4 linked regions of the Homo sapiens genome follow. The protein of the gene in region 2 purifies or fractionates together with the protein of the main gene of each other region. This does not show direct contact. Each region holds a gene or a part of one and is shown on either strand. Other genes may lie near its edges. The genes, in order: PDCD11, MACROH2A2, CEBPZ and GLYR1.

Region 1 (7,146 bases), about 33 Mb from region 2:
CATTTTTAAAATGTTTCTGGCAGGGGATGCAAATGAGATTTTCCCAGGCAAAACACCAGGGAGACAGGCCTACAGAGGGGAAGAAATACTGATGAATGATCTGCAGCAGCAATCAGCTGCACGCCATTTGCTCGCTGTCTTCCATGACTTTGGTGAGTCCCATCCCCTCAATAGGCCTCGGCTGACGTGCCAGGCACACCAGGAGGCTCTGCTAGGGGACTGCTGGGATTGTTCCCATCTGAAAGTGCAGGACTCAATGACATGGGGGTGGGGGAGGTAATAATTTCAAAGACATTCTGGTCCCTTAACACCTCAAAAACCTCAGAAGTCTGCAAAACCTGTACTCAGTAGCTCAGGATGATCAATTTCCCTGTCTAAGTGTGCTGAGAGAATAAAAACAAGTGCAGTCATCTTCACACTGGAGACTAAGGCCTTCAATGTGTAGTGTGGAGTGGGAAAGGTGTCCCTTCCTCCAGATGGTCACACAGCTGGGCGAGAGGAACATGGGCCAAAAGCTCAGCTGCACTCACCCCTCCCAGGTGCCTTTATGTCACACACACCTTAAGAGGTACCCCTGAAAATCTTTCAAAAGAGTAAAGTATCCTTGGCCAGGTGCGGTGGCTCACACCTGTAATCGCAGCACTTTGGGAGGCCGAGGCAGGTGGATCACTTAAGGTCAGGAGTTCAAGACCAGCCTGGCCAACATGGTAAAACTCTGTCTCTACTACTCAAAAAAAAAAAAAAAAAAAAGCCTGGCATGTTGGTGGGCACCTGTAATCCCAGCTACTTGGAAGGCAGAAGCAGGAAAATCGCTTGAGCCCAGGAGGCGGAGGTTACAGCGAGCAGAGATCACACCACTGCAAGCCAGCCTGGGCGACAGAACAAGACTGTCTCAAAAAAAAAAGGAATAAAGTATCCTACTCCTCCCTACCCGCCCTCAGGTTCTGTGACCTTGTATCTCTCCTCAAAGCCCTTGTACATGGAGTTGAACTTACAGCTTTTGGGGCCAGTCCGCTAAGACCTGAGGGGAACTGGATGAACACGCCATAGTCCTTGATGCTCTTCACAAAACCAATGAGCAGCATTCCAGGATGGATTTCTGAGAAGTTCTTGGGATCCTGGCCACCTTCTACTGTGGAGACCAAGGCTGGCTTCCTGCAAAGAAGCTAGTGGTACTTCATCAAGGAATGTTCCAGAAAGGGCAGATGAAATGTCCATCTCTCCCATCTCCTTTCTCCACAGAGAAGGACAGAACTGCAGGCTGATCTCTGCTGCTACAGCGATTCTCTAAGTGTGCAGACCAGCAGCATCAACATCGCCTGAAACTTAGGAGAAATGCAAGTTCTCAAGCACCACCTAGACCTACTGAATTAGAAACTTTGGTGTGGCCCAGCCATCTGCATGGCCCAACTGCACACTACAGCTGAGAATCACGGTTTTATTCCATTCCCGATTCACTAATCTGCAGATTACTAGAGGACACCAAAAAGGGATGGCTCATCCCCCTGGTCTGGCAGCTGGATCAGCCATCACACAATCCTCTACTACTCCCTCTTTACACTGATGAACTCATTTTCCCTCCTCTGCCCATTTTTACTCCCAGGAGAATGAACTTTACATTCTGTGAGAAGCTCCTTCAAAGCACCCATGCAAAGACCAAAGGGAATATTCCTGAGCCTATAGCCCCGCGGGGAGAAGGCATAGGGGAAAAAAAAAAAGAGGAAAGGGGGACAGAAGCCACCTTATTATTGGTTCTAACCCAAGGGGCAGGCACTGAAAGCCCCAAGAAAACTAGATGTGCTCCCAAGCACCCCACTGGGCCTCCTTCTCCAGCCTCCGAGAGTCCCCCTCTCTGCAACCTTTCAGGCTACTCCGCCCTGACCACCAGCATCTGCTGGCAGCACTTACTCAGGCCTGCTCTTACTTTCCATAGCACAGGCTTCATCACTGGTTTGGTTTTGTGGAGATATTTCTGAGGTCAAATAGCTGTCTAATTTCCCCAGAATTTCCCATCCAAGCACCCATGGCCCCCCACCTTCCTCTGCTCCACAGATACCAGTCAAGGATACAACACGCCCCTCGCTCTGGCTCAGACACAGGACTCGGTGAAGGATGTCACCTGCCTGGAGCCAATGATGTAACAATGGGCCGTTGGCAACGTGGTCCGACAGATGAGATGTGGGGAGGAAAGCACGGATGTTGTGGGGCAGGACAGCCACCTCCAGCCCATCTTTGGTCTTCTCTAAAACCTTCACATCTACCAACTACCCAGGGAAGAGAAAGACAAAAATAGCACTTGTCATGAACAGAGAACAACCTGGTCTGGATTAGGCAGGGCTTGGAGGCATTAAACTCCGGCACCAAGGATCTCTAAGAGGCAGCTTTCTTCCAAACCCCACCCACCACCCCAACCACCCAGCATGCATGTACGTGCACATTCACCAGGACTCATGGGTGGACCCATCGCACTCCTCTCTCAAGTCCCTCCACGGAGCCCCAGGAAAGCCAGAACTGCAGGCTGGCCCTAGGGACCCGAGAGGAAAGAGGTCAGCAGCCCACTGCTGAAAAGCCTCACTGTAACAGGACTTTCAGGGACAGCTTCCATTTGTTCTGACACACAGGAAGGAATGCGTATGAACCCCTCTAGCCCCAAAATCTTATCTAGCTACCTCTATCTTTCCGCTTCGTGGGTTCCAATATGCCATGTGTTAGTGGTTCCCTGCTCTCTGCCACTGTAACATAAAATAGCTTGTCCAGAGAAGTCCACGTACCTGCCCAATGTTAATGGCTTTTCCTTTCTTCTGACTGTGTCCTGCAGGCTCTTTCTTTGGCTCTGGATCACTCGACAGCTTGAAGGATAAGAGCATCCTCTCTTTGGATGGCTCACAGTTCAATACGACAACCTTCACCACCTGGCAAGAAACCACACAGGCTTGGCCAACTCCTCCCAGCAAGCCTTGCAGGCCCTGCAACGTGCCCTCCACTACTGCTGCAGAGGACTTGGGAGATCTACCGAGCCTTTGGATCAGATCAGGAGGCAGTGAAAAGAAGAAATGCACTGAGAGCTACACAATCCCCCAGGGCAGCCTTTGGGATAAATGGAAGACATAAGTAACTTTTTTTGTACAATCCAAGTCTTAAAAATTATTTTTCTTTTTGAGGTGATGGAGATGCTAATTACCCTGGTTTGATCGTTACACATTGTAAGCATGTATTGAAATATCACATGGTGGCCAGGCTTAGTGGCTCAGGCCTGTAATTCCAGCACTTTGAAAGGCCAAGGCAGGCTGATCACTTGAAGCCAGGGAGTTCGAGACCAGCCTGGCCAACATGGCAAAATCCCATCTCTACTAAAAATACAAAAATTAGCCGGGTATGCCGGCACATGCCTGTAGTCCCAGCTACTTGGGTGGCTGAAGCACGAGAATCACTTGAGCCTGGGAGGTGGAGGTTGCAGTGAGCTGAGATCACGCCATTGCACTCCAGCCTGGGTGACAGAGGAAACTCTGTCTCAAAAAAAAAAAGGAAAAGAAAAAAGAAATATCATATTGTACCCCATAAATATGTACAATTATTATCTATCTGTTTAAAGTCGTTTAAAGGAATAAAAAAATGCTTTTCCTAGTGATACCAAGACTTACTAGTTTTACAGCACTGCCCCCATGTGGTGACAGTGACCTCAAAACAATTTCCGATATGAGAGGCACAGGTTTATTACAAGTAAAGACTGACCTCTTCCATGCGTGCCTGAGATCCATCAGCTTGCCAGCTTCTGCTGAACCCCGCTGAGGCTTTCTCTCTGTTCTGTTCCCCGTCTCCTCCATTTAGCCGGCTCACACCCACTGCCCCATGTGCTCTCTTCCTCAGCCTCCTAAAGGCAGCCCCACTACTTACTGCTCCTTCATATTTGTGTTTGTGGGGTCACCAAGGGTAAAGGGGACCTGTCTAGGGGAAGGGTTACCTGGCCAGTGTAAAAAACTCTCTCCGGGTCAGGGATATACTCAGTACTGAGCTCATGCTTGGGCACCAGTCCCTGCACATTGTTGTAGAACTTCACAATGCAGCCATAGTCCTTGACCCTGATGATGAAGCCATGTGTCTGCAGACCAGGCTTGGCATCGGCATAGCAGGTAATGACAGGTAGTTTGGACTCAATCAGGGTTTTTTTCAGGGTCATCATCAGCTTCTTGGCTTCAGGGTCACAAAGCAAAACCTAGGGGAGGGACACAGGCTGTCATCAAGTTATCTGTTATCATGAGAGCCACTGAGCTGGTCTCTGCAACCTCTTAAACCCAAAAGCCACGGGGCCATTCCCCAAGAACCTGCTATAGCTTTTCCTCTAATCATCTCAGTGGCAGATTCTTCCTGCTGTATGACAATCTGGAGCATACAAATCACTATTTCAAATGTAATTCCTCCCATAAATTGCTGCAAACTACCCTCTCCTGACCATGAAGCAACATTAATTATCTTACATCACCTCTATGGAGTCTTGGTTACACTAACTTCTACACCATCTTGGCTCCTTCCTAGTGGGCTTTGCATCTAGTCTAACAGAACCAATGATGAACCAATTTACCACCTTAGTACTGCCGTTTATTAGCTATGAAATAAGATGGAGATGCAACTGTCTTTCACCCCTTCAGAAGGTCATCTCCTTAAAGACAGAAAAAGTATTTTTAACCCTTGATCCCACTACTGTAAAATTTTGCACCAATGGGCAATCATTACCTCTGCTGAGTCAATAACGATGAGATAAACTGAATACCGGAAAATCTAACATGCTGAGTGCCTGCCCGTGGAGCACTCTTGTGTGCATCATCATGTTGGATCTTCACAACCCTATGAAGCTTTCCTTCGGATTCGAGCCTTTGTCATAAATCACCCATGTTTTGGCAGCTTTGCCAGGGCTATTTCTGTGCCTAGAACACAACCTTTGCTCTCCCCAACCTTCCAAATCCTACCTATCCTTTCAAGTTCCACCTCTGCCAGAAATCTAGAAAACATTATTGTCATACAGAGCTGAATTGTTCTGCCATGTATTAGCTGTGTGACTCTGGGCAAGACGGTTGGCTTTCCGAAGCTTTAATTTCCCCACCCGCAAAATGAAGATAATAGTGCTTAATTGTTAGGGTTGTTTCAAGGATTAAATGAAATAATGCTTGTCACATGCCTAGCATAGAAACTGGCACGGAATACCTGTTCGTGGCAGTCCTGTTCGTGGCAGTCGCTACTGATAACGTCAACAATTCTGGCTGCTCCAGCCCACCCTCACCTCCCCTTTCTCAGGTGTGACCACAGCACACAACCTGCACCAAGCCACATGGCAAAAGATCACAGGCTGGCTTGCTCTCTCATCACGTATGAATATTTTAACTCCCAATTATACTACACAAAACGGGGACTCACTTTTCTCTTCCCAATGCCAGGTACAGCACAAGACACACTACAGACATTACACACTCACTTTGTGGAAAAAGGCAGAAACTTCAGTTGAGAACTGCTTTCTTCCCATCTAGCCAAAACCCCAAGAGACCCTTCAGGAGGCTCACCCGGCACTTGACCTCATCCCCGATGTGGTACTTCTTCTCCGGATTCTTCATCAGGATGTCAGCCAGGTGCATGGGAGGTACCAGGCCCCTCATCTGCTCGCCCACCTTCACCAGCATCCCATATGACTTTATGGTTAGCACTGTGCCCTAGAGAATCCAAAGATAAGCTGCCACAATGTCTCAAGAATGGCCTTTCCCCCACCTCTTACAACAAGGCATGTCATACCTCCCCTTCACAGCCAACTTCCTGGGCTAACTGTGCCTGTTATTCCAGATGGCACATGGGTGAAGCACACACCCCACACTGAGCTGGATTATTCTGTCAGCTTTATTTATGGGAGCCTTCACATCTTTCTGTGTGAGCATGTGCTTTCTGTGTGCCTTAAAATACATTCCCCAAAGGAAGGGACTATGTCAAGGTCTCCTAAGGAATAAACTCTACATATAAAGGGAGCTGCTCGATTAGAGCCAAATGGTCGGACAGGACAGGTACCTGGAACTGGCTTCTCACTAATATCCCAGGTAGATCAATAATCACAGGACTAACTTTTGATCAGGTCTACTAACCACCATCAAATCCCAAATCTCAGGATTTATGATCTACTGCCTTTGTGTAGCTGGGTGGTGCTAGTAAGATCTTACCTTGAAATTAACTATGAGTTACCCAAAGAAAGAGAAAGAAATTCTAGTCAGCAGGCAGAAGCAAGGAACATGACATTCAATGTGTTAACATGAGGACTAACGGGCTGACAGTCACCTGTGCGTGAACTAAAGAACGCCTGATGGTGAGGCAGTACCTAATTATATGCTTGAGGTCTTACCTTTACCACTGCCCCAGGTTCGATGTCATGATATCTAAGGTACTGAGCTTCAATAATAGACCTAGGACAAGGAGAAAACACAGAATTAAATAAACTAGGGCAGAGGTTGCCTAAAATTCAGGGCTACCACAGGCATGCTGGCAAGAAAGAAAACCCTTCCCAAGCACAGCCAGGAGAAATGGAATATGAACATGTACAGGTGCACATCTCTACACCCCTACCTGTTAATGACAGACTTACGTTCGTAGAGAGAGCAAGGCCAGTTCATCCATTTGGCTGTAGTCAATAATTCTACACTTGTGAGTGTTCCCTGGCTTGAAGGCCTCAGGATTGAAGACGTTCTTAGAATCAGAGAGATGGCTGAGCTGCAAAGTACCAAGTGATTGAGGATAAGCCAGGGACAACAGGTCTGAGCCAATGAGACCTTACAGCCCATAGAGAGGACTCAACACTTATCATGTACCATAAAAACAGTACTTTGATTGCCTGGTTAAGTAATTCTTCACACTAAAAAACTGCTCTTTATCATCACAGAATTTCAGCAAGGTCAGGGAAAGTCCAGAACACAGGTCAGTCAACTGTGCCTAGTGCCTGTTTTTGTAAATAGAAGTTGTATTGGAATACAGCCATCTGTTCATTTACGTACTGTCTATGGCTGCTTTCATGCCATAACAGCAGCGTTGAACAATTAGGACAGAGACCACAGGGCCCACAGCCTAAAGTATTTATGACATAGCCCTTTAAGAAAAACTCTGCTGGGCCCTGGTCTGGAT
Region 2 (7,931 bases):
TCTTTTGAACTGCTGCCTAATATTCCAGAAGACAGATGCACCAGAGTTTATTTAGCCATTCCCTGTTGATGGCTGTTAGGCTGTTTTCTACTTCAGAATGACCAAAATTGCAATGAACATCCTTATACATGCTGAGCTCACGGATGCCTGCTTCTTTGGGTGACATACTGAGAAATGGAATGGTGAGTCACAGAATGTGTGCATTATTAATTTTATAGTGCCAAACTGCTCTTCCAATTGGTTATATCAATTTACACACCAGTCAGCAGTATATGAAAGTACCTGTTTTCCCACTAGCTTGCCAAAATCACTTTTTACCTTGTTTTACCTGCATGTATATTTTATCTCCTAGGCTTGGGGTTGTAAGCTTTATGAGAGAAGGGCCCAATGACTTCCTTATATTTCATTTCTTTCCCTATCTAGAGGTGTTTAAGAATTGGTGTATACTCAGGAGGCTGAGATGGGAGGACCCCTTGAACCCAGGATTTCGAGACCAGTCTGAGCAATATAGCGAGACCCCCATCTCAAAACAACAACAAAACAAACAACAAAAGACTTGGTGCTCAATAAGTGTTTGTTGAATGATCTCTAACCACAAGTTCTTTGTTAATCTCTGTGCAATATACTTTCCATTTACCAAGACTGCATCTAACTTGGAGGTTATTTCTTAAGGTTGAAAAACATTCTTAAGAAAGTTGGCTGAATTTTTGCACATCCCTCCCCGGTAACAAGTTACAGATACCTTTCATTTAAAGTTGCCTAAGACAGGACTCACCTCCTGTTCTGCTGGCAGGAGGCAGTGAAAACAGATGTGGTTGTCTCAGACAATAGCTAGCAGGGTGTCCCACCCACTGGGAAATGGCAGACCAGAGGCGCTTTAAAAATCCTGGGAACCAGACAGAAGATGGAATGGTGAGGGAGTAGGGTCAGAATCACAGGGACACTCCGGATTCAAGGAGGTAAATTCTTTTACGCAGTTTTGATATAGAGGAAACCACTAATAATGTGTAAAGTCTGACAATTAATGGATCCAGGTGAGGTGTAACTGTGGTAGGATAGGAAAAACCAGAGAAGAGGAGAACTGGGCATGTTTTAAAAGGAAATTTGGCTACAGGAAAGAGGGGTTATGAAGATGTGAATTATGCGACTCAAGATAAACTTTTCCGCCGGGCAGTGCCTCTATTTATTTATATGTAATTTTAGGCTAAAACAATTCTAAAAATCACCAGTATGTTTCCAAATCTTGGAGCTCTTAACATTTAGTTTGAAAATAAAAAGTGTGTTAAAACGGATTGAGAATTATGTGTAGCTTAGTTTGTGGTTCAAAACAACACACACGAAGACACGTTCTCGCTCTTAATAATGTTTTCTTTTTCTCTCACCTATTGAACCGTTTCAGTAGCAACTGTGCAGCCCAGTGAGGTGACAATTGGATTTCAAAACAAACACAAATGAGCAAAGTGAGGAAACCATTTGCCGCGGTGGACTAATGGCCCCTAGGGGATCCTGGGGTCTGTGGGGCTTAGAACTGGGCCCTTGTTTTGAATTCCTCTGAGGTGGACAGAAGCTGGAAGGACACCTCAGTTCCAGCGTGGCTGTGACAGGGTAACTGCCCTTAAAATCAGGGCAGCGGAGCCACGGTTCCCATCGCGTCCCCTCAAACACTCAGGGCCCCGCACTTTGGTTTCTCAGCCCATTTCTTCTCGCGCCTTTCATCCCTTCACTCATCCAGGGCCGTTGCCAAAAAACCCTGGCAAGGACCAGGCCTCAGTCAGGCCCACGGTGGTCCACTGCACGCGACGGGAAACTCCTGGAGGAAGCTCGTTTGGCCCTTGGGGAACCAATGCCCCTTTGGCCATTGTTGTAAGGAACAAAGAGGGCAAGAACTGAGGGCGCCCCCCCAAGGAAAGGCGGGGGAGGACACCCACGGGCGATCCGGGGGGCTGGCCGGGCTGGGGCTGAGGTGCGCCGGGGCTGGAGGCTGGGAGCCGGGGGAGGCAGGGCTGGTCCCCAACCGCCGCGCCCCGCGAGCGATACGCACGGCGTCCGGCGCCCGGCAGAGCCCTTTCCTGCGCCGCAGCCAGTTTACTTTTATTCCCTTTTTCGATATTTTTATTATTATTATTTTTTCCCGCGCAAAGCGGGAGCCAGACTGCCCAGGCGAGCCACGGCCGGGCCGCCATTTCCCGGTGAAAGCGCAGCGCGCGTCGGCACCGGGCGCCCCGGAAAGGGAACCGAAGGGGAGTGCCCGGCCTCGCGCCCTCTTCCGCGCCGGCCCCGGGGCGCACGCCCGCCCGCGGCGCCCGGGTGTCCGCGCAGCAACCCCCAGCCCTCGCCCCGCCACCCGGCGTCCCCGACCTGACCTTCCCCGGCGCGGCCCGCCCCCGGACTCGGGTCCCTAACCTCCGCCCGGCTGCTCCGCGCCCCCTCCATTGTCAGCCTGGAGCCGCCGGCGCCCTGCCCGGGCACCTTCAGAGGCCCCCGAGCGGCCCTCCCCGGGCTCCCTCGGGCCCTGCGCAGCCCCCCACCCATCGCCCCGTGCCCATCGGCGGCCGGGCGCCTCCGTCCTCCCGCTCCTGCGCCCGAAACTCCGCATTCCCAGGAGACCTCCGCTTCCTCCGGGTCCAGCCTCGCCTGGGGCCCGCTGCTGAACCTCGCATCCCTCCTCCTTCCCCTCTCAGTACCCTCGACGCCCCCGGCCCCTCGCTGGCCGCAGGAATTTGACCACTTCTTTAGCAGCCCCCCCTTTATCGCCCAAGGAAGCAAGTTGGGCAGCTGGATTTAAGAATTTGTTTTTGCAGAGGGTGGGTCGGCTATCGAGGGTGCGCCCGCAGGGGCTCGGGGGAGAGGCAGAGGTGGTTCTCTCCGGCCCCTGCACTGCCCCGGCGGCGCGTTTTGTTTCCAGACCCCGGAGCACCCTAAACAATAATGCCATCGCCATGGCGGGCTCACCTGGTGCTGCGCCGCCTGCTCCCGGCGCCCGGTGCCCTCTGCGCGCCCCTCCACGGGCGCAGGTTTGGCCCACGCGGCGCCGGTGCCGGGCAGGACTCTTTGCCTTTCTTTGGGTTCTATCTGTGCGTGTCAATGGCGGCAAGCGGCAGTTCTCTGGGCCGCGGATAGTAGCGGGGGGAGGAGGAGGAGGGAGAAGGGATTGCTCCTTCTCCACATAACCACCTCTAGGAGGAGTTGCTCAGCCTCATCCCCCGCCAGCCCAGGCTCCGCGACGGGTCCGGGGCTTTCGGTGGGGCTTGATGAGCTATTGTCCTTCAGGAGTATTAATGGTGAAACCGCGCGGCCTCCGCGTACTTGGCCGATCTGCGAGACGAGCCGAGGGCCACTCGCTAACATGAGGCTTTCCCCAGAACTGGGCACAAACGCGCTATGGTCGCGATCCAGTCTCCTGTTAGCTGGATCCACCTTTGGTGGGAGAAGGTGGCGTGGGCGTTCATCTGGCAGCTCTGGGGAGAGTCTTCGAAGGGGAAAGCGAAAAATGCCACCTTCTATATTTTTGTGTCCTTAAATAATAACAAGTACATTAACGTTTGTGTCCACCACTGGGAAGAGTGCATAGGGCGGCCACAGCCACGAGAGCTGAGAATTTATATCCGTGCCTGTAGGCTTTTTAGAAATTAAGACCGATTTAGAATCCAGCGTTGCATAATATTTGGAGAGGCAGATGTATGTTTTGGTGGGTGAGACTGTGTGTATGGGCATAATTTTTAATTGGGTTGCTTTACAAGGTGTTAATTTGCAATATCCCAACGGGTATTTAGATGAGCGCGAGGCTATTGTCTTCAGGACCAGTTTTTATTAGTTACTAGAAAATGCATCTTTATGGGGGTGTGGTGGACACTGTCGGGTGTGATAATGGGGATTAGCAGTTGCTGTGTTCCTAGTGGAAGCCAGTCTCGGCTTTGTATTGTGAGTTGTTGGCCAGGGCTCCATGGCTGGAGGGGAGTCAAAAGAATGTGTTTATTTCAGTGGGAAATACTAACTTGCTGTGGACCATCCAGGTTTCCTCTGATTTCTCCTACAGTCAAAGGACTGTGAGAGGCAACATTTTGATCCCTTCCAAAAAGAGAAACCGGTGCAAACAGAATTCTCCAGCCTTGGCCAAATGGCTGATTTTTAAAGCTGTTACATTTGGTAATATTGTGTATATTTGCTACTACAAACTTGTAACTATTTAGGCAGTGGGGACTTTGGAGTGACTGAAAGCCTCCCAGTGCCTGAGTGGGAAGAACTCATGCCTACCACCCTCTGCGTCTCTACTAGTTAGTTAATCATGGCTATTGCTGGCGTTTATAGATAGCGGGTTAGGTTTAGAACATGTGCATTTTAAAGTGTATTTGCTGAGAAATCAGCCATGTTTCTCTCTGACTTCCTCCAAATCACGCATATATCATCAACATATGCATAAGCCTCTATTTCAGTCTCCTATGGCTTCTCAAACTCCCCTGGACTCAACAGTCTCTGTTTCTTGGGGCTTCCTTTACTCTTTTCCTAAGCCTTTCACGCCCTCTGTGTATGACCTCACTGTTCTTTGTCTTGGAAGGTATTTTCCAGGTCAGATATCCAGTCAGGATAAAGTCTTCTTTCCCCAAGATGTATATTTAAAGGGTTTCAAATGATCCCCTGGGGCATCCCATAATGATGTCCTTTCCCATTCCTAAAGAAAGGGTCTCTCTTCTTATACCTTCAGGTGTCCATTCTTCACCAGAAATAACCATCAAGCCAACATTCAAGAGAGTTCAGGAGTTTTCTATGAGTGCTTGAAAAATACTCATACTCTGTCATCCAGTCAGCCAGGCTGACTGAAATATAGTTGAATAATTCATCAGTAGATATTAGATTCACATTCTCCTTGTAATTTCCCAATAAAAGTGGCATATGTGGTCATTTTTATGTGAATTTTATATAACAGTTCATTCTAGCATTTTGTTATGTGCTATCCTGAGAGAGGCTGGATCTAGTAAATTTACTGGTTAGGATTCTCCCATTTCATACTGGTTGGTTTCTTCAGACAGATGATGCTGTCACAACTCAGAAAATCAAGGAAGAGGTCAGCTTCAAAATACTCTGATTCTTAGGATAAAAGGGTTCTTAGAGTTCACCTAGTGGAAACCTTTGCTATAGGAAGAAATCTGGTATTTGGAAGGGTGAAATGACTCAGCCATGGCCTCGCAGGACATTAGTGGGAGATCCTCCAATGCATGTCCAGATACCCAGTCAATGCAGTTTCCGCCAATTCCAAACTTTTCAGGATGTATAGGGGACAAATATGCCACTTAATATGCAGATCTAGTTGAATTATGTGTGTTTAATACCGAACATTTAACACATAAAAATTTAACACTGAGATAGTATCATATAATATTATATAAAATTAAAATACATTTTAAAAAGTCAACATGATCATAAGTTGATAAGTAATCTAGAGTTCCGCAGTGGTCTCTAGCTCGGGGAACCTCTGACAAGTTGAATAATAAAGAATGATAAGAGCTTACACTTATTGAATGTTTACTATGTGCACTGTACTAAGCACTTTATCCTAACTTATTTAATCCTTTCAACACTTGTATGGGGCAAGCACTATTTTCTCCTTTTTACAGACTGAGGCAGGGAGTGGATGAGAAACTTTCCCACAGTTATAGAGTTAGGAAGTGGCAGATCCATGCTCTTAATCACTGCCTTAATCTGAAGGTGGAGAAGTGCATTTGTTTTAAGCAAAGGAATTTTGCACTCAGTCACATGATCTGAGTCTAAGAGGGGCCCTTGGGCCCCTCCCAATAAATGTCCCTAAGGAGTCAGCAAACAGCCTAATTACAGGAGGGTTGGTTGATTACAGTTGCACTGAAAACATTTTCTTAACCCTTGACCTGTATGTGTGCATAATATTATGAATACAGGTATTGATTGTGAGTTGACTCCATTACAGCAAACATGTCTTTAATAATTTTATTGAGATGCAGGATGAAGCACTTCTCCATTTAGAGAGAGGCATGTAGCATAATTTAGAGATGAAAAAAAAAAAAGAATCAAATGAATCAGTCATCCAACCAGATTTGTATCCTATTGGGTTGCTAGTAATTCATCCACAAAATCATCTACTTCAAAAATAGCTTCATTGATTTACCCCCCAAACCCTTTTTCTTGATCCAAATTTGTGATTTTGTGTAAACTGAGTGGACTTTTATTTTTCATGATTAGTTCTAATCAGTTTACGATACATATTATAATTTGTGATCATTTTACCCTCCTAGGATCTTAATATGCAATTACCTTAGTAATTTCCTGACTTTGCATCTTCCAGAATTTACCTATGTGCATGTAGGTATATATTTATATCTGGCATATGTAAGTATATGCGTAAGATTTGTAGATCTAAATTAATTTTATTTGGGAATTTCTGATCTCCTTTGAAGTAACCTGAGATTCCCTGGGAGTGTCATAGAAACAGATGGAAATCATTGGTTTATGCACTTCTTTGGATGTAAGTTAGGAACTCTAGACACTGTATTAATTTTATCAAGACACCAACTGGTATAACTCTAAATAACAATGTGGGAGCTTGAGGTTATGAATGCAGACAAAGCACCAGGCTAACAGTATCCCACCCTGTGAAAGAATAAACACAGCGTCCAAAAGTACGTTGTAGCTAGGAAAATACTGGACAATTTGACACATAAATTTTTGTTTAAGCTGGAAACTTACAAAGTCTTTCCTGTTTTTATATTTTGAATAGTGAACATGATTGGTGTTAAACTTTTATTTCCTTGATCACGACTGATGACTTTAGGATCTTAATCATGTGTGGAGGGGGAATAATATCCTTAAAAAAAAAAGGACACGCAGGCAATCATTAGGCCAACAAAGACTATGCTTATAATTTCTGGCTAAAATGAATGTCTTGGTCTCCTAGCAAAAGAAACATTTTACTAGTCCTGGTTCTTAAAAACAGTGACAAACTATGTCTTTTTTGATACTAAGTCTTGACCCTTTGGTTCTGGGAAAGGGGATTTGCATGAGTAGGTATGTGTGTGTATAGATGCATATTTAGATATGTACATTTATATATGAATCAAATATTTGATGCATATGTTACATGTGTATACCTTGTAAGATGAGTAATGACTGAGATTCCAGTGTGCTCAGAGTTAGGGCTGGTTTGGATTTTAAAGAAATCTACCGAATGTTTAGCGTTTAACTGATGAACTATATTGTAAAAGAAAATGAAGTGTTTCAGCTTTTTAAGACAAATACACTGTCAGTCCCAATTATGCAAAGTTGTGGTTAGGAAAATAAGGCACGTGGTATCATTACGTTTAATGGAAACAGAGCCCAGAGCTAAGGGGAGTGTGCCAGTTGGTAACTTGCTCTGATCGGTTACGGAGCTTTCTGGGAGATCATCCTGTTACCTCCAGGCAGAGTTCTTTGTGACAATTGTGATGAGAAGTGGCAGCAAGTATCCAGAGAGTTTGGACTTTAGCATCTGTGTTGGCAGATCTGTGCAATGTGACCTCACACCTAAACAAAATTGCTCTTTACAGTTTAGGCCCAGTCTGGAGAATGGGGGCATTGATTTTCCAAATCCACAAATGCAGAATACCATAGTGAAACTATAATTTATTTATACAAATGGTGTGTTTTTACAAAGGCCATCTGTCAGTTGACTCTCTGATCTAAAACAAATCTGTTTGTTCCCCCAGAAGAAATAACATGTCTGTTGAAAAAAGATTTATGGACGACAGGCTGCCCAATCCACCAACCATTGGTATAATAGTAACTATTTATGATATATTTACTTCTAAAGGAGTGCTGTGAGTGGAATCTATTACTTGTAAAGTATGGTAATTAATTTTTCATTACCTCAAAGCCAAGAAATGGAGCCCACTTGCATTTATTAAGATTGCTGTGTGAGAAACATGTTC
Region 3 (7,146 bases), on a different chromosome or scaffold from region 2:
AACAAAATTTATATGCTAAATTAACAAAACTCCCAAATTTACTTTAGTTTTACTAAGATATATTAAGATTAGCAAAATGACGGATTTGTAAATTTTCTTAACAAACACAGACATATCCTTTGATCTTTTCAAAATATGCTGATTAGATTTCATAAAATGAAGCATTTAAAACTAAGGCCACTTCTCCCACTAATGTTCCATGGTCTATTTACACACAGTAGTAGATTATTGAAGTAGATTATTTCATAAAATGAAGCATTTTATGAAATCTAAAAATTTAAATTTTAGCAGTTTCCCCAAATGAAACTATATTATGTATAGTACCTGTGGAAAAACACTTCATCCACTGGTATTTGGCTTTCTTCTTTTGCAAGGAACTCCTTACTGTTCACTACAAAAATAAATTTAAACATTTTAACTTCATATAGCAATCCCCTTTATGTTACTCAAGCTCTTAAGACAAAATACAGCATAATCTGTAATTCTAAAAATCTCAGAATTGTGTGGGAAGGTAGACAGAAGGGACTCTGGAGTGCAAGGGACAATCTCTGAAAAAGTCTGTGTGAAGACCCCCCCAACATTTGAAACTTCACTGGCTACAGCATAAAGTAGGCAGTACATAGCTGTCAGTGCCGTTACAGTGAAACAACAGGGTTCTCTTACTGTTCTTCATTTGCATCCAGGACCCAACTTTCAAGAGAAATAAAAAATTCAAAGAGTTATTTTAATAAATAATCACTTTAAACTTGTCATTTTCAGCTCAAAAAATGACAAGCTTGCCATTAATGCGTGCCATTCTGGGAATAAACAGGAAGTTAACAGAGTTTTCCTTTATACTGAGGAAAACTAAGAAATAAGGAACTACAAGAAATCAGTTTTACCTCTTCAGAATAAAAATTGCTGACTCATCCTGAGTAAAAGGAGATTTGGCTTTTAATTCTAACTTACTAACTGTGGGTAAGTCCTTTTACATCTCTGGACCTCTGTGAAGTAAGTCACTGGAAATTAAATGATCTATAAGGTCTAATTTAATCCTGGTCTCTGAACAAAAGGGAGATGAGATCTGGTATGCAAAGAAATGTCTGCTTTGAATACAACAACAGACTCAGATCCAGAAGATGGCTAGCAAATATAGAAGTAGGTTATTAAGTTTAAAATGATGCTCTGTGACAAAACCAGCTGTGGGTTTTTGTGCTGCTAAGCTGATATTAGAGAGCTTTAAGATGGTCTGAATTGTAAGCAATAATAATTATATACATAGGGGTTGTGGATGAAGCTACGGATGATAAAATGGTGACAACTGTCAAAGCTGGGTGATGGTAATGGGGAGGGGGTTCATCATACTATTTTGTTTATTTTGGATATGTTTCAAATTTGCTGTAATAAAGTTAAAAAAAAAAAAAAAAAGGCCCAGTCAGATACAGTAGATTTAAGAATACCTATTCTTGGGAAAAAAGATGGATAATGTCTTTGATGCTCAGGTTTTATTCTGATAAATTAGAACAAAGAATAATACAATTTATGCATCTTTGTCTTATATTGTCTTTTCAGTTTCAACTGTCTAAGGTTTATACTTACCAGGAAGATGACGAATATCCTTAATAAAATGTTTTCTTTTCGGCTGCATCACAACACTATCTGTGTTTTCTGAAATGTAAAATTATGACAGTATAATGCAAAACCTAGTTATAAGCTCATATTGTTTATTATGTATTAAAAATGAAAGCCAAATAATTCACTAAATAGAAGCATACCTTTGCCTTTATGGGGCTTTGGATTTCGGTATACAAATCGATCCAAAAATCTCATTAGAGTGAAATCCTGCAGTGGGTCCCCTGAATACTGAATATAGTTTCCCTGAAAAGTGGAGCGGGGATTTAAAAACTTAATTCAAATTATGTCTATGAATCCAAGTAAGAAAAAGGAAGAAAAAGATAATTTCTATTACACTGTATTGAAGATACAAATATGCAATAAATGACTCTTCAAATATCTCTCTCATGCACATTATACTTAAAAAATTAAACACACAGATACATATACATACATATTCTAGGATGTAATGTTGATTTGATGGATAGACTAATATTAATAATGCAGGCCATCTAACCATTAATCAGGAACCAAACCCTGAAGTGGCAAACACAGCAAATGGGAAAGTGAGGCAGTATTTCTCCAGGAGAGGAGCTAGAAGGTAATAAATAAATAACTGCGTGGCTTTCAATGTCTTATTGCTTCCACTCATCTCAGAGTGGGAAAAGTTATCTGCTACTCTGTATGAAACAAGTCACTGCTTCTTTATACGAGCAGTAAAATGTACAAGATTCTCTCTGTTAGAGAAAACACTGTATGACCAATTATTGATTATCTAAAATGATACTTTTTTTCTTATTTCTCATCTTTGGATTTATTTTAGACTCACCTGAAGGATGGTCTTTGCAAAAAGGGCCACGGAGGGATGAAAATGCACAGATAACTAAAAAGAAAAATGTGAATAATATCAATATTTCTAAGGTCGACTCTTAGTACATTTATAGCTTATTTAAGAAAATCGGGCTGGGTGTGGTGGCTCACACCTGTAATTCCAGCACTTTGGGAGGCTCAGGCAGGCAGATTGCTTGAGCCCAGAAGTTGAGACTGGCCTGGGCAATATGGCGAAACCCCATGTCTACAAAAAGTACAAAAATAGTCAGGGTGTGATGGTGCGCGCGTGCCTGTACTCCCAGCTACTCAGGAGGCTAAAGTGGGAGGACTGCCTGGGCCCAGGAGGTCGAGGCTGCAGTGAGCTGACATGGCACCACTGCACTCCAGCCTGGGTGACAGAGTGAGACCCTATTTCAACAACAACAAAAATGAAAATGCAAAAATTTGAAATTTAAGCCAATACATTAAAAAAGTGATTCTCAAAACATATTGGTCTCAGGACCATTTCCTACACTTAAAAACCAAAAATTCCATCAGTTTCTATTCAACAGGTTTATATCTACAGACACCTATGTTATAAAAATAAACAGAAAAATTGTAAATACTTATAGGTCCATTAAAAATAACAATAAAGCGGCCAGGCGCGGTGGCTCATGCCTGTAATCCCAGCACCTTGGGAGGCTGAGGTGGGCGGATCACGAGGTCAGGAGATCGAGACCATCCTGGCTAACATGGTGAAACCCCATCTCTACTAAAAATACAAAAAATTAGCCGGGCGTGGTGGCGGGTGCCTGTAGTCCCAGCTACTCGGGAGGCTGAGGCAGGAGAATGGTGTGAACCTGGGAGGCGGAACTTGGAGTGAGCCGAGATCGCGCCACTGCACTCTGGCCTAGGCAACAGAGCAAGACTCTGTCTCAAAAAAAAAAAACAAAAAACAAAAACAAAAACCATAAAGCTACTACATACTAGTAAGTAGCATATTTATGAAAAATAATTATGCAGCCAGGCGAGGTGGCTCATGCCTGTAATCCCAGCATTTTGGGAGGCCGAGGCGGGCGGATCACGAGGTCAGGAGATCGAGACCATCCTGGCTAACACGGTGAAACCCCGTCTCTACTAAAAATACAAAAAATTAGCCAGGCGTGGCGGTGTGCGCCTGTAGTCTCAGCTACTCGGGAGGCTGAGGCAGGAGGATGGTGTGAACCCGGGAGGCGGAGCTTGCAGTGAGCTGAGATCGCACCACCGCACTCCAGCCTGGGCGACAGAGCAAGACTCTGCCTCAAAAAAAAAAAGAAAAAAGAAAAAAAGAAAAATAATTATGCTTCAGGACGAAATATATAGCGAGTAGTATTACTTTACAGTTTTGCAAATCTCTTTAATGTCTGGCTTAACAGAAGAGAGTGGATTATTTCATCTGCTTCTGTATTCCACGTTGAAACATACAATCTGGCCTCATGTGTAGAAAATAGTCTTTCACATAGCTGTGAATTTTCTTCTTTAGTACTATACCAAAACCAAAGATTAGTTGTAATATGGAATCTGAAACCCATATTCAATTGGCTTTTGGTACTTGCTACTTAAAATTATTTGGTCTACTTTGAATCAATCATTTATTCACTCAAGAATTTGTAACATTCAGGTGGCACAGTGGCTCATGCCTGTAATCCCAGCACTTTGGGAGGCTGAGGTAGGTGGATCACCTGAAGTCAGGAGTTCGAGACCAGCCTGGACAACATGGCAAAACACTGTCTGTGCTAAAAATAAAAAAATTAGCTGGGCATGGTGGCATGCTCCTGTAATCCCAGCTACTCAGGAGGTAGAGGTTGCAGTGAGCCGAGATCGCGCCACTGCATTCCAGTATGGGTGACAGAACCTTCTCGTTTCAAAAAAAAGAATTTGTAACATTGTGCATTGGTCATTGGAAAAATACCATATGCAGTCCTTCCAAACACTGGCACATTTCGTTATACTTTACCACAACAATCACATTGTTAGAACCACTGATTTCATCAGAAAAGTTTTACAAATTGAGAAACTGTCAAGCTCAAGGTGGTGGTTACAAGATTTTTAAAACTTTAATCTTTGCTCGAAAGCTTTATTTTTGAATTTTATTGCTGACAACAAATACTGCCAGCTTTTTTGTTTCATTCATTTTCAAGAAAATATCTCCCAAATACCTAAGCCTGAATAACCAGTTTGTCAGTCTTTCATGAAAGAGCAGCTAGATGAGCTTGCAACAACTGGTAAGCACTTGTCCTTGAGACACGTGACAACCTTCATGCTTTAGGTAGGCAGCACAGGTATGTTACGCATACTTGCTATGTATGCACACGAAATACTAAAAAGACATGTTACTTTAAGGTCAAGACACTAAAATCAGTAATTCTCCCTGTGTCATCATTCTTAAGTCATACTGGCTTTTTTTTTTTTAACTGCACATATGTGGCAGTGATGAATATAATGGCTTCTGATGCAGCTTGGTGCTGTCTTTATTCAGGATAAGCTGCAGCAGTTTTACCTATCATTTCTTTTATAGTATCAGTGCCACCGTCAACACAGTGATGAAAACAAATAATGTACTGGTATTACTATGGAAAGAGCTGTGACCTGGCCGACTCACTAAAAAGGTATCAGGAACTCTTAGTGGTCTGGCCGCACTTTGAGAATAGCTGCATAAGATACTTACTGGCTTTACACAAAAAGTCACAGAAAGGTTATTAAAAATATGAATTCCTCTTACAAATTCAGAAAAGTAACTTTACTTGCAAAAAATTTTATCATAAAACTTTTCAGAGGTATCTAATAAATAAAGCAAAATTTATCCATTTTCTCAACTCTATATGCAATAATCTACCTACAAAAAGCAACAGTCATAACCCATGCATGACATCCTTATTTTACGTGCACACTTAAGATTTTCTACAAAATGAACACTTCACATAGTATCTTCCCCCAAATGTGGACTTTTAATGTTTATTAATGCTTATAATTATCATAAAAAAACAAAAACTTCAAGGCATTACATCCTCAAGGGCAAAAATATACAGCATAGGCCGGGCGCAGTGGCTCATGCCTGTAATCCCAGCACTTTGGGAGGCTGAGGCAGGCGGATCACAAGGTCAGGAGATCAAGACCATCCTGGCCAACATGGTGAAACCCCGTCTCTACTAAAAATACAAAAATTAGCTGGGCGTGGTGGTGGGCGCCTGTAATCCCAGCTACTTGGGAGGCTGAGCCAGGAGAATGGCTTGAACCCGGAAGGCGGACGTTACAGTGAGCCACAATCATGCCACTGCACTCCAGCCTGGTGACAGAGGAAGACTCTGTCTCAAAAAAAAAAAAAATATATATATATATATATAGCATAAATGAATAAAAGACAATTTGAAATTATTTTACCTTTTTGAGTTCCCAAAGACTTGTATTTTCAGCTCCACAGAACAGAGGGTTTCTACTGAATGGATCGTATTTATTTAACTGTTTCCCACCTAGGAATAACAAAAAAAATACGATTTCTCAAATGCTTTCTTCCTAGCCCAAGAGGTCATTAAAAGCACCACCATTAATATTCTCAACAGATATCTCCAACATTCTTACTTAGCCAAGCAACCTAGATTAAAAACTCTGAGCTCCCTCAAGAATTTGTCTTGGTACTTAAGCTAGCATCTGCTCTTGAATAAAGCAGAGAACATGTTTATCCCAAACACCAAAAGCTTTCTTCAAGGCCAGGTGCAGTGGCTCACACCTGTAATCACAGCACTTAGGGAGGCTGAGGCGAGTGGATCATTTGAGTTCAGGAGTTCGAGACCAGCCTGGGCAAAATGGTGAAACCCCATCTCTTACAAAAAATACAACAAAAAAACTAGCCAGGTGTGGTGGTGTGTGCCTGTAGTCCCAGCTATTCGGGAGACTGAGGTGGGAGGATCACTTGAGCCCAGGAGATGGGAGTTGCAGTGAACCAAGATCGTGCCATTGTGATCCAGCCTTCCTGACAGAGCAAGACCCTGACTCAAAAATAAGTAAGTAAAAGCTCCCTTCAAAACTTCTCCTTTGGCTGGGCACAATGGCTCATGCCTATAATCCCAGCACTTTGGGAGGCCAAGGTGGAAAGGCTGCTTGAGACCAAGAGCTCGAGACCAGCCGGTGCACAGAGTGGGATTTCGTCTCTACAAAAAACACAACTAGCCATACCTGGTGGCACGAGCCTGTAGTCCCGGCTACCTGGGAGGCTGAGGTGGGAGGATCGCTTGAGTTCAGGAGTTTGAGGCTGCAGTGAGCCATAATGGCCCACTGTACTCCAGCCTGGCCTGGGTGACATAGTGAGACCCTGTCTCAAAAAAAACAAAAACCAAACCAAAAAACCCCAAACTTCTCCCTTTCCTAAATGGCAACAAAAGGTGCCCATTTTGGGGCCAAAGAGGTGGAAACGTTAAGATGGAAATAATCTGAAGATGAACTAGGTCTAAAGTCTTTTGGAGCTTTAGAGTGCTTCAAATATTTGTCATGAAAGTATGCCCAGAAATAATTCTCACTTGGAACAGGTCTGACATTATCTTCATGTTTTTAGAAACTCAGGATTAAAAAAATTTAAAACAAAGATTTTTCAGAACAAACTAGGAACTGACTACCTTCCAACACACAAGCTCTTCATCCTTCTAAAGGATTATTCTCAGTTTAGTCTTCAGGGGAACTGATGGATTCTTCTCAAACTTTTCTGGCAGC
Region 4 (7,146 bases), on a different chromosome or scaffold from region 2:
TCTGCTCACCTCAGCCTCCGAAAATGCTGGGATTACAGGCATAAGCCACTGCACCTGGCCAACTTTGTCTTTTTTTTTTTTTTTTTTTTAAGGGAAAGGCTCTTACTATGCTTCTCAGCCTGGTCTTGAACTCCTGGGCTCATGTGATCTTCCTGCCTCAGCCTCCCAAAGTGCTATGATTGCAGGTATGAGACACCACAACTGGCCTTCCCAGCTTCTCTTGAGAAAAAACAGACAATTTGGCAGAAGCTGGCTAGAACCCTGTGGACAGAGCATGACCTCCCCAGACTCCCTGACCATGGCCAGCCCTGCTGCTCTGAGCACCAAGGCAGGTCAGCTGGGGTGCCTGGCACCCGTGCCACTGCTTCTTAGGTCCAGTCAGCTACAGTTGCTTCCATTACCTGCCTGGGCTCGCTGGTGTCTGAATTTTTGAGCCTTGATCCAAGGTCTAATGTTCCATCATGGCCTCGTCACCCAACTGTTGCTGCCAGCCATCTGGCTTCTGTTCTCTTTATCCTGCTGTTGACAATCCTACCGCGTTCCTGACACAGTCCCCTTCACTTTGAAATTCTTCTCTGTGGCCTTGTAAGACCGGCCCCAAATCTTGTCAGCAAGAAGGCGAGAGAGGCACTCTCACTGCTTTATCTCATCTTGCTAGCTCCTCCTGCTCCTTCCTGCCCCAAGCACGGCATTCTTGTGGCAATGCAGGCCTCCGCGCTTCCCTCTTCTCCCTCTCTTCCTGAAACAAACCCATTCCACTGCCCGGACTCAACTACCCTTTTACAAATTCACCTCCCAAATCTACATTTCTAGTCCTGAGGTCACACCAAGCTCCCAGGCTGTCTAGGCCTTGCCTCAAGTTCTTGACATTCCAAACAGAACTGGTACTCTTTCTCCACAAGCCACCTCTACATCCCCAGTCCTCTACTTTTAAGAAAGTGATGACCACTTTCCCAGGAATGAAGATGGAAATCCTCTTTTCCTTTTTCTCATTCATCCTCTATATAACCAATTATGGAATCTTAAGAACTCTTCCTCTGAAGTGCCTCTCACCTCTTTGCTTGCAACATTTGCAATTACCCCCTTATGAATGCACGCCTAGACTTACCTCCTAATTGGCTCTGAGACTTTCCCCTCTGCACTCGGTGACTACTGGTGCACACACGGGAGGCACACACTGCCACTGGCTCAGTCACCTTCCCGGGCCCCCACTGACTCCAAGACGCTTTAGTACCACGCTGCTTCAGTAGACCTTCAGGCCCTCCACGATCCAGGGACAAGCTTCCTTTTTCTCGGCTTTCCTCACTATCCTCTCCCTGTTCGAGAGTATCTCCACCAGCACCGAGCCTCACACGGGCTGTGCCCTCCATCTTTGGAATGCCTACCCTTCTTTCTTGCTAAGCCCCTCCCAGGGCCAGCCCTTGTGCACCGGCTCAAGTGGACTGCTCTCCTGCCTCGCGCTCCTACTTTACACCTGCATCCAGGCCGTGTCTCTCACCTGGTCTATGGGATTCTTTATTTTTTAATTTTTTAAATAAGATTCGGGGTCTCACTCCATCACCCAGGCTAGAATGCAGTGGTGCAATCGGCTCAATGCAACTTTGAGCTCCAAGGCTCAAGCCATCTTCCTGACTCAGCCTCCTGAGTTGCTGGGATAAAGCATGAGCCACCGCACCTGCCCTGCAGGATTCTTGAGCACAGAATTCTGCTCCCACTCCATGAGCAGAGTATAGATAAGCATACTACATAAGCATACTGTAGAGCTTAACTCTACCTTGTACTAAAAGGACATCACTAATCCCGGAAGCTGCAGAGAGAAAACAAACCTTCTCATCCTTTGGGGGCCGACCCCGCTTCCGGGGACTTTGCTCTTGGGCTCTTTTCAGAGGGGATTTGGAGCCTCTCTCTGAAGAGCCTGAAGACACCCTCTTCTTTCCTTCTCCCATGTTCTTCTTCACCTTCCCTTCAGACAGGCTAAGTTTGCGCTTCTCATCACCTGAGTTTGGCCTACTTCTCTCCTCACTGGAATTACGTCGATTCTTGTCATCAGAAGAATTGTGGGATGACGTCTGAAAGTTTAATAATAATAATGATAACTACCACCACAGCTGCTGCCGCCATCGCCACCATCATTTACAGGTGCCATGTGCTGCTACAGGCACTCTGTGTGGTCTCCTCACAATGACCCTAGAAATAGATTCTGCTGTCGTCCCAGACATTGGGAGAAGCAGATTTAAAAAATATATATATCAAAAGTCACTTTCCCTATGTCCCAAAACTAGAAGAAAGGATTTAAATCTAGGCAGTATATGTATTTCAGAGGCTATGCTCCTAATCTGTGTGCTATGAAAGGAAGAAATGGCCTGTGCTAGACTCAAATGCTGAGATATTTCTCCTGGGTCCAAGCAATTTTCCTAAAAGCAACAACCTACTCCAGAAAGGTTAGCTGCATGGAGTTTCAAACTGATAAGCAAAACGCTGACACCTTAGAACTGAAGTAGCTTTCTCCAGTAGCATTTCAGAAGAACAAAGGTTTGCGTTTGGGTGACATTTAATCTGTTAGTTGCTATGCAAAAATCACCAGTCTGGCATTGGTAGAAAGTGAACATTGTGTCTCTCACCTGGTCTTTCCCTTTGGCTCTCCTGAGGAACTCTTCGACAGCATCTACCGCTTGCTGGAATCGTTTACCCTTGTTAATTTTTATCATTTCCTCTTTATGAGCATGATATGGCTTCAGCTGTTCCACTTTGATCCAGGCACTAGCAGAAAACAAACACAAAAAGGGTGTGAACCATATAGCATATGCCCTAAAGTATCAACAACCTCACTATGGCACGGTGTAAATATCCATTTGGTTTAACTGGACTTTGCAATAGGCCTTGCCATTTCTTTCAAAACATGCTATCAACCATCTCAGAGTCTTATGTCTAAAGTATATTTTCTTGAAACAAGTCAAGCAGAACAACCATCACCACCACTGCAGCAACCACAAATCAAGTTCCTCCAGTGAAAGCACTGTGTTGCAGATTATTTATTTCCACAATCGTCTATCAGCCTCCAATGCCCAACCACATATACGCTGCCACTTGCTCAGGGCAGAAAGAAATCTGGAGACCCTTTCCCATTCTCACCAGGCAGCACAAATGGCCACACACAGATCCCTGGGAATCAGGGTACCTGGAAATGTGATAGATGATAGCAGCATTACTATGCAGGAAAATGCCTGCTGCCTGTCAACAATGGGAACCAGATTTATGATCTGTTGATCCACAGAGAGTCAGGGATGTTACAGAGCTGAAGAAATGCAACATCTTCTAAAATTTGTGGTTCCTATGGATATTCACAGCCACTGAGCCTATATTTGTTCATAAATGATGGTAACCATGGCTACTAAACCACACAAAACACGGAACACATGGTTTGGAATAAGGGCAGCAGTTACAAAAGGAGGCATTTAAAAACAAGATGGCATGCTGTTTTATGATGTCTCAAAAAAAAAAAAAAATAGAAACAAGATGCTTGAGATTAAAGGTAGAAGAACATACACCTCCGATATGTAATTTTTAATTTCAACCATCAATGTGTAACACATGAAAGTGAAAGTAGTCAGCTGTCAATTCTGGGGTTTCTGATCTGTCACACTAACCTGAACAAATCTGCTGCAGCTGGCTTTCTATGGCTTCCCTGAATGGCATGCAGCTTATAGAATCCAAGCACAAAATAATTTTATAGGCTTTACAAGGTATCAGTTAGTTTACATGTTTTAGCCTGTGATACAGGTTTCACAGCATAACCTTCAGAAAAAGTAGGTCAGGTTAAGGATACAGAAACCCAGCTATCTCACAAGCTTCAGGTTGTTTTCTTCATAGAAAGCTAGAGAATATTCACTAACAGCAAGTGTTAACCTTTGCACATAAAAATAATGTTACTAACCCTCCACCAGCTACCTGGACTTTGAGTGTGCTGCTGGTAGTTGTGATAATGGGGTCTGTGCAAAAACACAGACCTGGGATCATCGGCCTGCAGATGTCAGGCAGCGAACCACTATCAGGCATGCCACCATGGCTAAGTGAGATGATGAATGGAGATACAGAAGCTGGTCTCCCTGGCACAGCTCCAACTAGAGGAGTTAGGCAAATTCCTTTTTTTTTTTTTTTTTTTTTTGAGACGGAGTTTCACTCTTGTTGCCCAGGCTGGAGTGCAATGGGGCGATGTTGGCTCACGGCAACCTCGCCTCCTAGGTTCAAGTGATTCTCCTGCCTCAGCCTCCCAAGTGCTGGGATTACAGGCGTGAGCCACCACACCTGGCCTTTTTTTTTTCCTTTTTGAGACAGAGTCTCATTTTGTCACCTAGGATGAAGTGCAGTGGCACGATCTTAGCTAACTGCGACCTCCGCCTCCACCTCCCAGGTTCAAGCAATTCTGCCTCTATCTCCCGAGTTGCTGGGACTACAGGTATGCACCACCACACCCAGCTAATTTTTATGTTTCTAGTAGAGACGGGGTTTCCCTGTGTTGGCCAGGCTGGTCTTGAACTTCTGGCCTCCAGTGATCCACCTGCCTTGGCCTCCCAAAGTGCTGGGATTACAGGTGTGAGCCAGCAAACTCCTTTCCAGTGACCAACTCATCTTAAAGTTTGAAATTCAACATGAGAGCGCCAATGAGTCCAATCTGCTGGGAGGAAAAGTGGAAGGAGATTTCGACCCCAGATTTTCTGGCAAGAATATCCCTGAACTGACTCCGTTCCCTCTCCTTACAGGGATGCTAATGACAGGCCAGAGCAATCAGATGCAAAGTCAGACCCAGCCCCAAAAGCCAGTGAAGCTACCATACTAACCCGTGGGTCTGAGATGACACAACCAGTATCAAGGATGAAGCTTAAGGAGTCGTGACCAGCCAGTTCTTCCTAGGAGCTTCTGGTCAGAAGCTGAGAACCACACAAGTTCCCAATATAGGACCAAAAAGGTGATTTTTATGGAACCCCTTGAGATGGGACAACAGACTCCGAGACTTGCTAATCCCACCCACGCCATCCTGCTACCTCCATCCCTGCCTCCCACTACCCAGCCTCACAGGAACCCGATTCTGAGGGAACAGAAAGGTGAGGATGTCTGTGAAGTGCCAAGGAATCAACCCCATTTTTTGTTGAAGCATCTTACAAGGTTTACTGATTTCTGCTAGAAGGAACTGTACAGTCAAAATTCCACTCACTTTAAAGCATTTGAGATACTAAAATTTTCCTCTTTACAACCATCTTCGAAACATTAAAATGGCTAAATGAACTGACAGTATGAATAGGATGGTAAATCCAAGAAATGTTAATCTATTTAAGGAATCAACTTATTGCTGGAGAAGCATCCTGTTACATCAAAAAACAGCCATAAAAAACCAGCTTGGCTGGGCACGGTGGCTCACACCTGTAATCCTAGCACTTTGGGAGGCCGAGGCAGGCAGATCACCTGAGGTTAGGAGTTTGAGACCAGCCTGGCCAACATGGTGAAATCTCGTCTCTACTGAAAATATAAAAATTAGCTGGGTGTAGTGGCACGCAGCTGTAATCCCAGCTACTCGGAAGGCTGAGACAGGAGAAACACTTGAACCCAGGAGGCGGAGGTTGCAGTGAGCCAGTATTGTGCCACTGCACTCCAGCCTGGGCAACAGAGTGAGACTCCACCTCAAAAACAGTAACAACAAAAAAACCCAGCTTACCAGAGCTCTATGGGGATTACCTCTTGAAAGCAAACCAAACTTAAATCACTTTGGCTATCTGAATACAATTTTTTCTCTAAAGGTTACACTTCTTTCATCTTTTTTAAATTTATTTTTTATAGAGATGGGGTTCACCATGTTGCCCAGGTTGGTCTCGAACTCCTGAACTCAAGTAATCTGCCCACTTCAGCCACCCAAAGTGCTGGGATTACAGGTATGAGCCACTGCAACTGGCCTACCTCTGTCTTTTTAATGAGAATATGCTTTTCAGTTGGCGCCTCAACAATGCACCACTGTCTAATTCACGGAGGCACATCAGCCGGGCCTGGCACACCACTGGTCCTCAATAAATAATCACTGGGTAAATGATTCCTTCCCAGATGTTCAGGAGGATGTACTGCTCACCAGTGAGTTAAAAGGTGCTACAATGCTCCAGTGCGTAAGGCTTTAGTGTTTTTGTTGTTGCTACTGTTGGTTTTTTAAGTGACTGTTTCTTTCCTTGATAGAAGCTGTAACTTTTGATTTTCCTATCATCCTCCCAAGACTTAGATGGAGCTATATCTTTCAGCCCAATTGTGGCTGGGAAGTCAGAAAAATCAAGCTTATTCAAGCTGTATTTAAAGTAGGAGACTTTGCTTTTTATGTACAGTAGAATGAATGACACATTGTGATAGTAAATAGCTGAAAACAGGCAAGGTCATTACAGAGAAGGAAAGCGGATGTCTCGTAAGATATCTGGCTACGTGGAGATGAGCAAGATAAAAAGCAATGCATGTTATGTGCTACCACTCGTGCAAAGACAAGGAAAATGGACTGACCACGCACTGATATCTCTGGAGGGACACATCATCAGAAACTGGTCTAACTGGGTGGCTGTGGGATGGGGATGAATGCAACTGTTTCAATGTTGACAAGTTTTTGTTTTTGAATGGTGAACACATATTATATTGGAAAAAAAAAAAAAAAACAAAACAAATCAATACTAAAGGCCTCTGCCCTAGAACACAGGCTATGCCGACTGCCCAGAGGGTTTCCTCCATGACTTCCTGGTTTGCAGGTTTGCTCTGGTGGGTTGCTGCTGCCTGGCTGCTGGCATAACTGCACCTGTAACACAGCCAATTTACCCTGGTGACCTGACACTCTTCCTATAAAAAGTCTCTTCATCTATGAATACAGAACCGCCACTAAGGCACTCTCAGATTACTCCAATCAAAATGAATTAAAATCTGGTATTTTCAAAAACTTGCACACTTCTGATTTGCTTTCCTCTTAAATGAAAATCATACATGTAGGGCCCGGTGCGGTGGCTCATGCCTGAATCCCAGCACCTTGGGAGACCGAGGCAGGTGGATTGAGGCCAGGAATTCGACACCAGCCTGGCCAACATGGCGAAACCCCATCTCTACCAGAAAACACAAAAATTAGCCAGTTGTGGT

The links.
Region 1: the proteins of MACROH2A2 (region 2) and PDCD11 purify together in Homo sapiens (affinity purification with mass spectrometry; 2 studies listed by BioGRID and IntAct, with this or other methods). This does not show direct contact.
Region 3: the proteins of MACROH2A2 (region 2) and CEBPZ purify together in Homo sapiens (affinity purification with mass spectrometry; 2 studies listed by BioGRID and IntAct, with this or other methods). This does not show direct contact.
Region 4: the proteins of MACROH2A2 (region 2) and GLYR1 purify together in Homo sapiens (affinity purification with mass spectrometry; 2 studies listed by BioGRID and IntAct, with this or other methods). This does not show direct contact.

What each region holds. Positions count from the first base shown.
Region 1 is NC_000010.11:103,413,558-103,420,703, reverse strand, and holds part of PDCD11 (protein RRP5 homolog), read right to left. Parts: intron 6,739-7,146; coding exon 6,614-6,738; intron 6,435-6,613; coding exon 6,374-6,434; intron 5,700-6,373; coding exon 5,553-5,699; intron 4,214-5,552; coding exon 3,962-4,213; intron 2,913-3,961; coding exon 2,772-2,912; intron 2,265-2,771; coding exon 2,070-2,264; intron 1,167-2,069; coding exon 996-1,166; intron 1-995. UniProt on the Homo sapiens protein: Essential for the generation of mature 18S rRNA, specifically necessary for cleavages at sites A0, 1 and 2 of the 47S precursor. Directly interacts with U3 snoRNA. Involved in the biogenesis of rRNA.
Region 2 is NC_000010.11:70,048,022-70,055,952, reverse strand, and holds the start of MACROH2A2 (core histone macro-H2A.2), read right to left. Parts: upstream 3,108-7,931; 5' UTR 2,953-3,107; intron 1-2,952. UniProt on the Homo sapiens protein: Variant histone H2A which replaces conventional H2A in a subset of nucleosomes where it represses transcription. Nucleosomes wrap and compact DNA into chromatin, limiting DNA accessibility to the cellular machineries which require DNA as a template.
Region 3 is NC_000002.12:37,214,562-37,221,707, forward strand, and holds part of CEBPZ (CCAAT/enhancer-binding protein zeta), read right to left. Parts: intron 5,913-7,146; coding exon 5,824-5,912; intron 2,477-5,823; coding exon 2,423-2,476; intron 1,858-2,422; coding exon 1,755-1,857; intron 1,648-1,754; coding exon 1,579-1,647; exon of another isoform or gene 760-1,578; intron 392-759; coding exon 325-391; intron 1-324. UniProt on the Homo sapiens protein: Stimulates transcription from the HSP70 promoter.
Region 4 is NC_000016.10:4,830,153-4,837,298, forward strand, and holds part of GLYR1 (cytokine-like nuclear factor N-PAC), read right to left. Parts: intron 2,761-7,146; coding exon 2,622-2,760; intron 2,070-2,621; coding exon 1,827-2,069; intron 1-1,826. UniProt on the Homo sapiens protein: Cytokine-like nuclear factor with chromatin gene reader activity involved in chromatin modification and regulation of gene expression. Acts as a nucleosome-destabilizing factor that is recruited to genes during transcriptional activation.